Regions from separate parts of the Homo sapiens genome. Here all the other regions are reported to be linked to region 1. Evidence: microRNA targets listed by miRTarBase, many of them from high-throughput screens and not tested one by one. Region 1 holds a microRNA gene; each other region holds the end of a gene's coding sequence.
What was found. Region 1 holds the annotated microRNA hsa-miR-6811-3p (AGCCUGUGCUUGUCCCUGCAG, at 1,948-1,968, opposite strand). A microRNA usually pairs through its seed, bases 2 to 8, with sites in the 3' UTR of a target mRNA and lowers its output. Matches are read on the target gene's strand: a 7mer-m8 pairs with bases 2 to 8, a 7mer-A1 pairs with bases 2 to 7 and ends in A, and an 8mer does both.

Region 2: miRTarBase lists TAX1BP3 as a target of hsa-miR-6811-3p. Seed matches in the 3' UTR shown: 7mer-m8 at 829-835.
Region 3: miRTarBase lists TMEM216 as a target of hsa-miR-6811-3p. The part of its 3' UTR that is shown has no 7-base or 8-base seed match.

What each region holds. Positions count from the first base shown.
Region 1 is chr2:237,508,838-237,512,935 of GRCh38, reverse strand. MIR6811 (microRNA 6811) reads right to left here and starts at 2,005; the gene lies at 1,948-2,005. It overlaps MLPH (melanophilin), which reads right to left. Exons shown (of 16, transcript NM_024101.7): 3 at 2,141-2,362; 4 at 1,835-1,947. RefSeq lists enhancers at 1-153, 1,534-2,034, 2,035-2,535.
Region 2 is chr17:3,660,232-3,664,320 of GRCh38, reverse strand. TAX1BP3 (Tax1 binding protein 3) reads left to right here. Exons shown (of 4, transcript NM_014604.4): 3 at 49-126; 4 at 436-1,426. The coding sequence ends at 573. CTNS (cystinosin, lysosomal cystine transporter) reads right to left here. Exons shown (of 12, transcript NM_004937.3): 12 at 1,218-4,085. The coding sequence ends at 3,952. It overlaps P2RX5-TAX1BP3 (P2RX5-TAX1BP3 readthrough (NMD candidate)), which reads left to right. Exons shown (of 15, transcript NR_037928.1): 14 at 49-126; 15 at 436-1,428. Among named protein-coding and RNA genes, the nearest start is that of TAX1BP3, 6.3 kb to the left of the region's middle.
Region 3 is chr11:61,397,511-61,401,608 of GRCh38, forward strand. TMEM216 (transmembrane protein 216) reads left to right here. Exons shown (of 5, transcript NM_001173990.3): 4 at 264-465; 5 at 760-1,336. The coding sequence ends at 766. Among named protein-coding and RNA genes, the nearest start is that of TMEM216, 7.0 kb to the left of the region's middle.

The sequences.
Region 1 (4,098 bases):
GCCACCTCCTGGCCCCTTGGTGGTGATGATTTTGAAGTCAGCAGGTTCTGGTGGGCCGTGTGAACTCCAGCAGCTCTGGGCTGAGCTGTGGAAACACTGCGTCCTTTGAAATAATACAGCTTCCTGAGCCCACCCCAGTCCCTAAAGACTGCCTCTGGGGTTGAGATTCTGAGATGCTTGACAGCATGGCTTTTCCCGGTGTTATGTGTCGTTTCTATCCTTAAGCCTGTTAGGGGTGGACTGGAGGCTGGACCAAGCTCCACTGGCTGCAGGAGGACCCTTCTGTGGGCTCCAGGCTGGCCGTGTGCGTGTGGGGAGGTGGGATTTGCTGCTAGGCTTCATGATCACTGTGAAGAAGCAGCCCCCAAGAATAGGGTGATAGGCCCTCCCCATGTCACCGGCCGTTCCTAGTCACATCTGTTGTTGCAGCATGTTATCAGTAGAGCCTCCTTTTACTCTTAAAAATGCCCTGGTTTGGATGATTGATCATACCTGCCCCCATCCCCACCCCACCACCCAAAAAGTGCAGCCACCCTGTGGTGTGCGGTGTACTGCTCCAGCGGTGCCTCTCCGTGGCCTCTGTCCTAAATTAAACGATGGGCTAAGATGCCTTGAAATGCCTGCAGCAGGCCCGGCGAGAGCTTGAATGCTCAAAGGTGTCTATGCCAACTTCTGCTTCTTCAATCAAACTTGAGGCTTTAAGAGACAGGCACGAATAAGGTGTCTCTCCAGAAGGAAGGCCTGGGGGAGACGCCTGGGCTGGGGCATGGTGAGGACGCCCCAATCCAGAAGCACAGCCTCTGCCCTGGACGTGCCCAGCTGCCGGAGCCAGGCGCTGCCTCGTGGCCCTGGAGAAACTCGCCTTGGTCTTGCAGATGGAGTCATCCAGGACACTGAGACCCCAGACACCTGGCTTGGTGGCGGCTGTCCCACCCGAATGCTTGGCCGGGCTTAGTGGCAGAAGCCTTGGACTCCAGGTAACAGGGACAAGGTGAGCTTTCTCAAAAACACTGATGGGTTAGCTCCCTTCAAACTCAAATGCAAAAGACCCCCCGGCATCCTCCCACCCTCTCCCTGAAAAGATCTCTTCCAAATGCCTTATGGGGGATCTTACAGGCGAACACATTGTTTAGTTTAAGCCTACTGCCTGGATTTCAAATTCATCATGAAATAAATACTTGGATTCAAAAGATGAAAACAACTGAATTACAACAGATTTCTCTAAATCTTGATAATCACCAGATTCATGTGAAATGTTTGTTGAAAAGAGAGAGCCTAGGCCCCAAACCAGATGTCCCAGGGAAGAAGGGCTTGGAAAACATGTAGTATTAACAAGCACCCTGGTGATTCAATCAGCAGCTGGGTTTCAGAAACTTGGCTTTGAGTTCTCAACTTACTTTGAAGATTTGAAAACAATATAATTTCAAATATTGGCAACTTCAGCAGCACCCAGGACTTCTGAGGTGCTCAGACCAGGCCAGTGGGATGCAGAGGTTTGCACCTCACATAAAAAGGAGCCAATTTCACAGGGCACAGTGGCTCACACTTATAACCCCAGCACTTCGGGAGGCTGAGGTGGGTGGATTGCTTGAGCCCAGGAGTTCGAGGCCAGTCTGGGAAACATGGTGAGATGCCTGTCTCTACAAAAATTAAAAAAAAAAAAAAAAAGCAGCCAGAAGCAGGAATTCACAGAGAGGCATGTGCATGCACACACATGTGCACACACACATGCACACACACACGTACACACACACATGCACACTCCAAAGGAACCTGCTTTAATATTCCTAAAATGCCTGGGAACAAAAAGCCGTTCTTACTCTCCACTCCTTACCTCCACCCTGCAGCCGCCCGTGGAGGGACCGGATGACCTTGGCACTTCCGAACCTCTTGAAGCGGGCTTTCACATGCTCATAGTACCACTCCAGTGAGCCGATCTTCACGACTCTGCAGGGACAAGCACAGGCTCATGGCACTGCCTGAGTGCTGTACACAGGCCTGCATAAATCTCACACACACACACACACACACACACGAGTGTGTGCATGTGTGCGTCCACCCTTCTTCAGCTAGCCCCATGGAAGGGACACGCCAGATCCAGAAACTATCAAGGTCATTTTACCTCAAGGCCTGGGCTCACCTGGCCAGATGGCAGGGGTCACAGATCCAGCCCTGCTCCTCCGGGTGGACGCGGCCACAGCTTTTGCAGGTGAAGAGGCCACATTCCAGGCACTGCCTTTTGCTATTCACAAGCAGCTGGTAGGGCTGCAGGCAGCGGGCGCAGTGGGTCTCGTTCAGATGGGCAGTGTCGGAAAGCAGCTCCCTCTTGGAGCTTTCCTTCTTAATCTTGCCCTTCAACGCCCTTGGGAAAATATCAGAAACAAGAAATATATTGGGCATCTTGTTTTTGCAACAGGCTTTAAGTGTGTACACGTACATACACACACACACAGACACAGACACATACACACACACAGTAACTGTCTCCTATGCAGAAAACAGTGACCCAACGTTGGGCAAAGCCACACAGGCATCTTTGTTTTGAGGGCTGAGCTCAAACGGGCAATTTTGGTGGCTGGAATGGAATGGAAACACGTTAATTTCATAGAAATGATATTGCATTTAAGCATTTCTGTGGCTGTTTACAATTGTACCAATTTTGGTTGGCAGGTCACTGCGCCCTCCCCAGGGCAGTCACAGAATCCTGGGGGCAAAGCCAGATGGTGTTTCCTGATCAAGCATTGTTTTGGTCTCCTTCAGCAGGGGGGCAAGAGTTGAGCTAACGCCCCAGGTTTGCTCCTCTAGAGCGCAGCTGAAATGGCTCGGTGAGTTTCCAGAGCAGGAATCATCTAGCACCCGGAAGTCTACAGTTCTCCTAGACCATCCGAGTTTAAATAACACAGCTTCCTGGTGAACCTGCCAAGTTGAACTGATTGGAAAGTGTATCCTTAGATGATAATGAACACATTTCTTTTGTTCTAGATTTCAGAGAATGTCTGCCAAACGTAATATTTTCAGTTTCAGATGAGATAAAATTAATCCATTCTTAGTGACAAAAACAAGAAGGACACTAGGTGCCATTGTCTTCTGAGAACTCTGAAGCACACTGATTTGGAGGCGGACACCCAGAGTGCAGCAAAGGTGAAGAGAGTGGAGGAGTCCCACCAGGCAGGGGGAGGCCACCTCCGGTTTCAAGTGCAATTGGCTGAACTTCACGATTTTCCTCTCTCCACTATTTACAAAAATGTTCACTGAGATGGACACGAAATCAGGCTCTTGTCATAGCTTCAAAAACCAAGAGAAAAAGGGTCAAGCAGTTGTAGGAATCTAGGGGGATACCGCCATCCACAGACTACAGTTTAGATAAAGCTGCATTGACAAGGTAAAGTCTTTGTCCCAAACAGAGGAGCACAAGTCCCTGGAGCCAGATGGGAAGGGCCTCACTCCCTCCATTTCCACCCTTGCCAGCTCTGCACCAACCAGAAAACCTGGAGGCCACCCCTTCGCTGGACAGGGCTTGTTAGCCTCTGTCCCAGGGAGAACCTCTTCTTCTGTATCCAGGCAGAACGGTACCCTGAGGGCCAGCACAGCAGGAAGAAAGACAAGGACATGTGTACTGCCCTGCATTCCAGGCTGGAGGAGTCCTCTTAAATAAGAGCCCAGAAGTGTCCTGGGGCAGCAGCTGGAGGCTGATATATTTCAGAGGCTGAAATTAGGGGAAAGGAGAACTGTACTGTGCTTTAGATTCTTTAAAACATAACTTCCCTTCTTCATAGCCAGAGACCAGGAAGGGAGGGCAGAGAAGACTCCATTTGGGGAGACCAAATGACATCTGCCAGCCACTCCAGGACGTATCAACAAGACCCGGAGCTTCCGATCCTGAGGAGTGAATGGGGCCAGAGCACTCCATGCACTCTGCTAATTGGGTTGACCAGAAGTCACTCCTCAACAGGCAAGAGCCCGGCACGTGGCTCCAATTTAAAGTTAGCTTCAGGAATAAAAGACCCTCCTGAATGTGACTTACCATCAGAAACAGACTCGAAACAAGTCAGCTTGGTGTGCTGAATGGGGCATAAGCAAGTACGTGCAGTCTCAATG
Region 2 (4,089 bases), not on the chromosome of region 1:
GGGCCAGTCCAGTGACCACAGGGCTTGACTTGGGCTGCCCCTTTCCAGGGTATTTATGTCACACGGGTGTCTGAAGGAGGCCCTGCTGAAATCGCTGGGCTGCAGATTGGAGACAAGATCATGCAGGTAACAGGTGTCCCAAAGGAGGAGAAACAAGGTTTGGGCAAGCAGGTCTGAAGCACTTGGGGGTGGGGAGCTGCCCCAGCCTCCCAGCTGGGAGAGACTCACTGCAGCCAATTGGGAACCCATACTGGCATTGCCCCAGAGGACGCTGGCTTTCTCTCCTGTGTGTCTCAGCCACAGTGCTTGGTGTCTCCCAGCCCTGGGATGTTAGGCTGGGGGCCTACTTGAATGACCTGGGCCCCCAAAGCCCTCTGCTTCCAGATCCCAGAGGGCGGGGAGCTGAGGTGAGCCTGTGTTCTCTCCTGGGGCCAGGTGAACGGCTGGGACATGACCATGGTCACACACGACCAGGCCCGCAAGCGGCTCACCAAGCGCTCGGAGGAGGTGGTGCGTCTGCTGGTGACGCGGCAGTCGCTGCAGAAGGCCGTGCAGCAGTCCATGCTGTCCTAGCAGCCACCACCATCTGCGACTCCTGCCTGCCGCCTCTCTGTACAGTAACGCCACTTCCACACTCTGTCCCCATCTGGCTTCTGCTGACCGCTGGGCCCCAGCTCAGAAGGGCTATAGCTGGTCCCAGAGGCCTGGCCTGGCCTTCCTTCCCTTCTCCCATCCCTGGCCTGGGGCCTCTGGGACCGGCTTTCTCTCCTGGACACCGAGGATTGGAAATAAGGGCCTGGAGCTGAGTAGTAGCCAGTCTGCTGTGACCACAGGCTCAGGTCCGACCCTGCTGCTTGGCCACAGCAGTGGCTGGGCAAGTGGGAACCACTATCTCTTGGGAGCCCCCAAAAGCTGGGAAATGCTGGAGGAACCAGGCCTTTCCCGCTTTTGCCTGGCTGCAGGGTTCGGCTCCGCCCCTGCCCCCCAGCCCTCGTGTGTCCACACCGCAGTGCCTCTGCCCCTCGGGGGACTGGACACACATCCTGCCAGAGGCGCTACGAAGCTTTGCCCAGATGAAGCCAGGTGGGCTCCGCGTTCACTCCCACTCTCCCGAGGGGTGCTGGCCTCCCCAGGGTTTGCCTTCTTACGGATTTAGACGAGGTTCGAGGCTCACCTATCAGGGCAGCTCTCAGGATTGTCATTTTCCTCTTTGCCTGTGGGTTTAACTTTTGTATTTTTTTAATCACAAGTTTGATACAAAATGTTTTTATCGTACTCTTTGGAGATGCCCATTCTACTTTTGAATTTAGCTTTTACTAATTCGCATCTGGAAGCTCAGCAAGTGCACAAGCCTTACTTTGGTTACCGTGGAAACCACTGCCGCCCCTCCCCGATGTGGTGCGCTCAATAAAAATGCTGGAATTCACAGGGGGCTTTGCTGAGGCATGGGCTGGGATATCGGGGTGGGGGTGGCGGTGGGATATTGGGGCCAGAGCTGTGGTTTTAATGATGGCCCCATCCCCCACTGTTCTGGGACAAAGCTCAACTACTCCCAGGCCCACCTGCCTGAAAGCCCGGGGCTGGTGGAGCCGCAGCAGCTGCACTGCGCCTGACCAGAACCACATCTGTGGGAGTGTCTGGGAGCACTGGGGTGGGACCCTGGGGTGCGTGTGCTTTCTTGGGTGTTACTGTGAAGCCCCTACTTGCTCCCAACCTCCTTTTTGCAACCTAGCCTCAGCTCCCACCTGGGAGGGGCCGTAGGGACACCCAGAGGTGCCTGGGAGAGACCCCTGCCTATAAGACTCCCTGCCTATAAGGGCACTCCGTGTATCCCAGCGAGGGACACAACCCCACGTGTTGCTGGGGGCCGTGATCTGGCCAGATGGGGGTGAGTCAGAGAGCACCTGACTACCTGCGTACCACCTCTGGGAAGGTGTTAGCACTCCTGGACCTACCTAGCACTGCCAAATCAGATTTTAAAGAAAAGTCAATAATTTTTTTTTTTTTTTGAGATGGAGTTTCGTTCTTGTTGCCCAGGCTGGAGTGCAATGGCGTGATCTTCGCTCACTGCAACCTCCGCCTCCTGGGTTCAAGTAATTCTCCTGCCTCAGCCAACCAAGTAGCTGGGATTACAGGTGCCCGCCACCATGCCCAGCTAATTTTTGTATCTTTAGTAGAGATGGGGTTTTGCAATGTTGGCTAGGCTGGTCTCGAACTCCTGATGTCAGGTGATCCATCTGCCTTGGCCTCCCAAAGTGCTGGGATTACAGGCGTGAGCCACCGCACTCAGCCGGAAAAGTCAATCATTTGAAATCTCTGATTTTTAAAGTAGGGCACCCAGTAACACATTTACTGGGTGTTGCAAGTGAAACAGGTCTGTGGACCCCGTCAGGCCAAAGTCTGCTCTGCAGAAACAAGACCTGACATTCTTTGACGTTTGTTACAACTAGATAGAGGAAGCGTCTGGAGAATAAGACCCCCACTGCCCCCGCTCCCAGTGCTGGTGTGCCCTTCAGAACCTCATCCACCCCGGCTCACATCCAGATTGAGTGGCGTGCCCTGGTAACCGTGAAGACACGGAGCCTGGGAGACTGACCTGGCCCTGGGCGGGTAGGCGTCTCGCGCTACCCAAGAGGGCTCCCCAGTGAAGTGTGGGGTCAGCACGCAGCGCTCTCGGGTCAGTGACCTTCACAACCTTATGCGCTTCCTTACACGAGGGGAGCAGGGCACCTGGCTCTGAAGGCCAGCACACCTGCCTTCTGTATCGAGCACACAGAGTGCAGAAAGGAAGCGAGTAGGTTTTAATTCAAGATACAGGCCCCTCGCGTTGATCTCGTAGAAGGAAACTCAGTGGACTGACAAGCTCAAGTCATGTATGAGGCACGTCCTGGGACCCCCACCCCTCCTGCCATAGGAAGGACAGCTTTGGGCAGAGGGAAGGAGGTTTGAGATCAGGGTTGGGCCCATACAGATTGTGTGAGGTGGTCTCAAGTACAAATACTTATCTGAGGCTCCTGAACAGGCCAGAAATTGGTGAGTCTCAAGTAGGTGTCTGGGGAAAGAGAGGGAAGGGGCCTGCCCTCGCTCCAGGGGAGCTGGTCGCCGTTTGGCAGGCCTAACAGACCTCTAAGGCACAGACTGGTAGCAGGAGAGAGCTATGTCCTGTACTCCAGATGCTGGGTAAGGAGCAGCTGGATGTGCTCAGATGGGGCTAATCTGAGAAGGTGGAGGTAGGAGAGAGGGCAGAAGAGAGTAAGCCACTTCCAAACGTCCCTCCAAAAAATCTGAAAGGAGTTACTATGCTAATGCGCTGGGCATGAATCCAATTCAGAACCAATCTGGTGGGCCCCTCATGGCTCAGAAATACTCTGGGTAGGGCTGGCTGTTACTGCAGTCACGGACGCTGAGTTATGTACAGAGAGTACGTCAGGAAAGTGGCCTTCAGAGAAAGAGCCCCATGGCCTAACCCCAAAGTCCTAGCCCGTCCACCAGCACCTCTGAGTTCACTGGCCACGGCACCGGGCTGCTTGATCTCTGGGAATGCAGCGGTGGCAGCAAAGTGCCCTTGGCTCACCCGGCTGCAAGGTCAGCCCTTCAAGCTGCTTGCAGAAACGCTGGTAGTTTGGGGCAAGGCCTTCGGCTGCAAGCTTGGTGCCCAGTCCTGCCTGAGACGGCTGCCAGAGCCTGTGCGCGCTGCCTGAAGCCTTAAAGAAAAGAGATGGCGGTGTCAAGGCGACGGTGCCACGTGCCTGGCCGGGGAGGCCCAGGAGGGGCCCGGACGAAGGCAGGCTATTGAATGGCCTCTGGCCCCAGGAGCAGAGTGGTCTCCTCTGTCCGCACACTGAGCCAGCCCTGTGTGCCAGGGCCCAACCGCTTCTCCGGCCTTCGCTGGGTGAGGCCTTCCCCAGCAGGGCACGAGGCCAGAGGCTGGGTACACTGGGTCCCTGGGTGCTAGTTCAGCTGGTCATACCCCGGTCTCTTTCTGTACAAACAGAAGTGCTGGATGAAGAAGACGACGTCGAAGACGATGGAGAAGACCCCGAGTCCAAACTTGGTTGGGTCTCCGAAGATCAGCGTCCACTGGTCTGT
Region 3 (4,098 bases), not on the chromosome of region 1:
ATTTTGTTTTTCCCAAATAAAGATCCCATTGTCCCTTGAGTGGGAACCAGACTGGAAGCAGGACCTCTGGATTAAGTGACTTTAATCTTGTAGCTCTCCTAAGCCTCAAACTTTTAGTACAGTGGGACCCCATTTATAAATCTGCACACCCCCACTCAGGATTATTTTTTGTGCCTTGCCATTCCATCACATCTCCCACGCCTTTCCCCTGGGCCAGGAAAAGCAGACCATTTGGAGATGACTCCATGGGCTGTGTCTGACAGGTACAAAGGGAAACCTCTGCCAGCGAAAGATGCCGCTCAGTATTAGCGTGGCCTTGACCTTCCCATCTGCCATGATGGCCTCCTATTACCTGCTGCTGCAGACCTACGTACTCCGCCTGGAAGCCATCATGAATGGCATCTTGCTCTTCTTCTGTGGCTCAGAGCTTTTACTTGAGGTGCTCACCTTGGCTGCTTTCTCCAGGTACTGCTGCTGAGGGACCATTTCTCATCACTAGAGGGTTGGGTTCCCATCCCAGGGAGGGATTCAGTATTCTTCTGAAGCCTAAGGGGTCTAGAAGACTTTTTTCTAGAGGGAGGAAGGGGTGGCTATGGGATTGCCTTTCCTGTTTAGGGTAGGTAGATCGTTTCCCACTCAGGGAAGATACTCTCCCTATCCTTTGGGGCCAGGAGGCTTGGAATATAGAACAGTCGAGGCCAGCTGCTCTCATTCACTGGTCTTTTAACATTTTCTTTCTTTCTGCCATCGTATGGACAGGATTTGAAGTACAGAATTTCAGCCAGCAGCCCATCAGGCTGACACCACACATATTGCTTCTGGTACTTTAGCCACACCAGTGAGAATTGGTGGGGCAAGTTGTCCTGAGAAAGGCTGTGTGGCTTTTCTTCAGCACAGACATTTGGGCAAGCAACTCAGCATAAGGCCAGTGGGTACCATCTTCTAAACCAGGACCATCAGCCCAAGAGACTCTTCTACACTCCAGTATAGGGAGGGGCAAGGTTATTCCCATCCTGCCCCTTCTCAGAACCAGTCCCCTGCTGACCTCAAGTTCTCCTCCTTGATCACCGTGGCCAGAGCATCTCGTGTGGACCATCTAGGCTCCTTGGGCTTCAAGCAGGACCTGAGCCACATGCTCCCTGTACGAGCTGTGCTATACCTGTCCCACATGAGCACGGAGAGCCTCATGTTGGTGGGTTTCCAGAGTGATGTGAAAGCCTCTCACCCCAATCCTCGGAGACTGAGTTCCACAACTTTTTTAGTAGCTCATAGTGTTATTTTTCTACTCTCTTCATGAAACTAACTTTATTTTATAATAAATATGTATTTTCTGTTGTGGGGGTTGCAGCCTTTCCTTATGGCACCTGTCCCTAGAATTCATCCACTCCAAGAGAGGGTCATGACTATCCCAGCAGTTTGTTCTCAGGAGCTTTGCTTAGTGATACAGTGTGGACAAAAGGCAGTGATGACCACTGATTTTCTTCCCCAAGCTGCAGCCTAAATTAAACCCTAAATGCACTGCCATCCTCTGTATCTTCAAGTCTCTCGTCATGCAAAAGACTGCTTATTTGCTTCACTCTGCCCCAAAGTCAGCATCTTGTCTCACTCCTCTTACAGATAATTGTTAGCTTTTTTCCAGTGGGCCATGTGAAACTGGAAGAAGCATATTCTAAACTAACTTTTTTTTTTTTTTTAATTTTGGAGACAGTGTCTCAGTCTGTCATCCAGGCTGCAGTGCAGTGGCATGATCTTGGCTCACTGCAACCTCTGCCTCCCTAGCTCACGTGATCCTCCCACATCAGCCTCTCAAGTAGCTGGGACTACAGGCACACACCACCATGCCTGGCTTTTTTTTTTTTTTTTTGAGACGGAGTCTCGCTCTGTCACCTAGACTGGAGTACAGTGGCATGATCTCGGCTCACTGCAACCTCCGCCTCCTGGGTTCAAGTGATTCTTCTGCCTCAGCCTCCCGAGTAGCTGGGAATACAGGTGTGCACCACCATGCCGGGCTAATTTTTTTTTGTATTTTTAGTAGAGACGGGGTTTCACCATGCTGGCCAGGCTGGTCTCAAACTCCTGACCTCGTGGTCTGCCTGCTGGCCTACCAAAGTGCTGGGATTACAGGCATGAGCCACCGTGCCCAGCCCACTAATTTTTGTATTTATTGTAGAGATGGGGTCTTTGTTGCTCAGGCTGGTCTGTAACTCCTGGGCTCAAGCGATCCTCCCGCCTCTACCTCCTAATGTGCTCGGATTATAGGTGTGAGCCACTGCAACCAGCTGATGTTTTTTTTTTTTTTTTTTTGGTCATTTATTTTAGTATTTTGAGGCCTGGCACAGTGGCTTACACTTGTGATCCCAACATTTTGGGAGGCTGAAGCAGGAGGATTGCATGATTCCAGGAATTTGTGACCAGCCTGGGTAATATGGTGAGAACCTTGTCTCTACAAAAAATTTAAAAACAAGCCAGGTGTGGTGATGCGCACCTGTAGTCCCAGCTATTCAGGAGGCTGTGGCAGGAGGATAGCTTGAGCCCAGGAGGTCAAGACTGTAGTGAGCTATGTTTGTACCACTGTACTCCAGCCTGTGCAGGAGTGAGACCCTGTCTCAAAAATAAAATTTTGAGTCAACATAAAAGGAACACTTTTTTTTTTTTTTAAGCTGGAGAACTGTCACTCTAGATCAATGTATACTTTCTTTCTCCAAGTAAGCATCTTTAAAATTATTCCTCATTTCCTTGGTAGTGGCCATGTTTTTTAATTCCAAGAAGCCACGAGGAGCCATGACGGAATCCACTTCAGAAAACCTTGAGGCTCTTCTGTTTTCAGATGAATCCTAGATTATCTGCTCTTACTCGAAGTAAAATGTAACTTTAAGCATTCTATGCTGGCTTTAACTCTTACTTTCTATGATCAAGCTCATTCTTATCCTGAGGGGCTCTGCTGTCCAAAGCACTGATGTTTTTTCTTGTTTCCTACCCCTTCTGTGCCCTTGCCTCCCAGTTGCCCTTGGGGACTATCCAAAAACCAGAGTAGACAGGTCTAATCAGCCATGACACAGTAACAAAACCTTCAATAGGAACTGCCCTGATAATTACAAATCCCACTAATACCAATTTTCTGCTACTTTCTCCCTGTGTTGAAGAAATCGCTGGTATCAAACTGGAAGAGAGCCCATTCTGTATGGCCTATTTAGAGGTTCACTGGTTAAGCTCACTGCCACAGCAATATAAATGATTGGAAGGCTCAATTGGAAGTTGAAGGGTGCCTTATAAAATCCATTAGAATTTAAAGACCTATTTTAGAGATGAACCAAGTCTTACCCCCGACTTTGCAGGCTTAGAGATGAGAAGTGACATAACCAGCACCACACATCTGGTTATTAACAGGTGGAACTAGAAATCTTGCCTTAGGAGTCTGTCTGGATCAAGGAAATTCCATTTCCTCATACTTGAGAATGAGGATGATGGTTGAAAATGAGGCTGTGATTAGGAATAGGAAGTCCTCTCATTTACTGGGTGGTTATGTGGAAGTTTAGTGCATTGTGCTTCCTGTGGGTTGCGTGATAAATGTTCATTTTTCCTGATGCTTGTTGGAACCACCTGTGTAGATGCAGTTAGTCACATAATTAGGACATACAACAGAAACTGAGGCAGTGGAGGCCTGGCACAGTGGCTTACACTTGTGATCCCAACATTTTGGGATCACAGAAATCAGTGTAGCTAGTCTTTCAGATTTATCGTGGCCAGAGGCTGTGCTCACTAGAGTCAAGGGAAGCTGCTTTACAGTCCACACAGAGCTGGAGGTACCAAAATTCTGGGACAGTGGAGAGAACTGAGCAAAGCAACAGGCCCTGGTCATAAGCTTGGCAGAGGCCTGCTCAGCTACTCACACTCATGGCTAGAACCAGCAAGTGACTGCAGTGGTCTCGCCCAGTTTAGGAAGCATTTAGGGCAGATTGATTCTAGCTCCATACCATGGCAGCAGCTTGTGGAGACTACTAATCATCCAGTGCCTGGCAAAGTGTATTTCATTCATATAATGATCCTATGAGGCAGAAGGAAATTAATCAGATGTTAAGTCATGTGTCCAAGGGCATT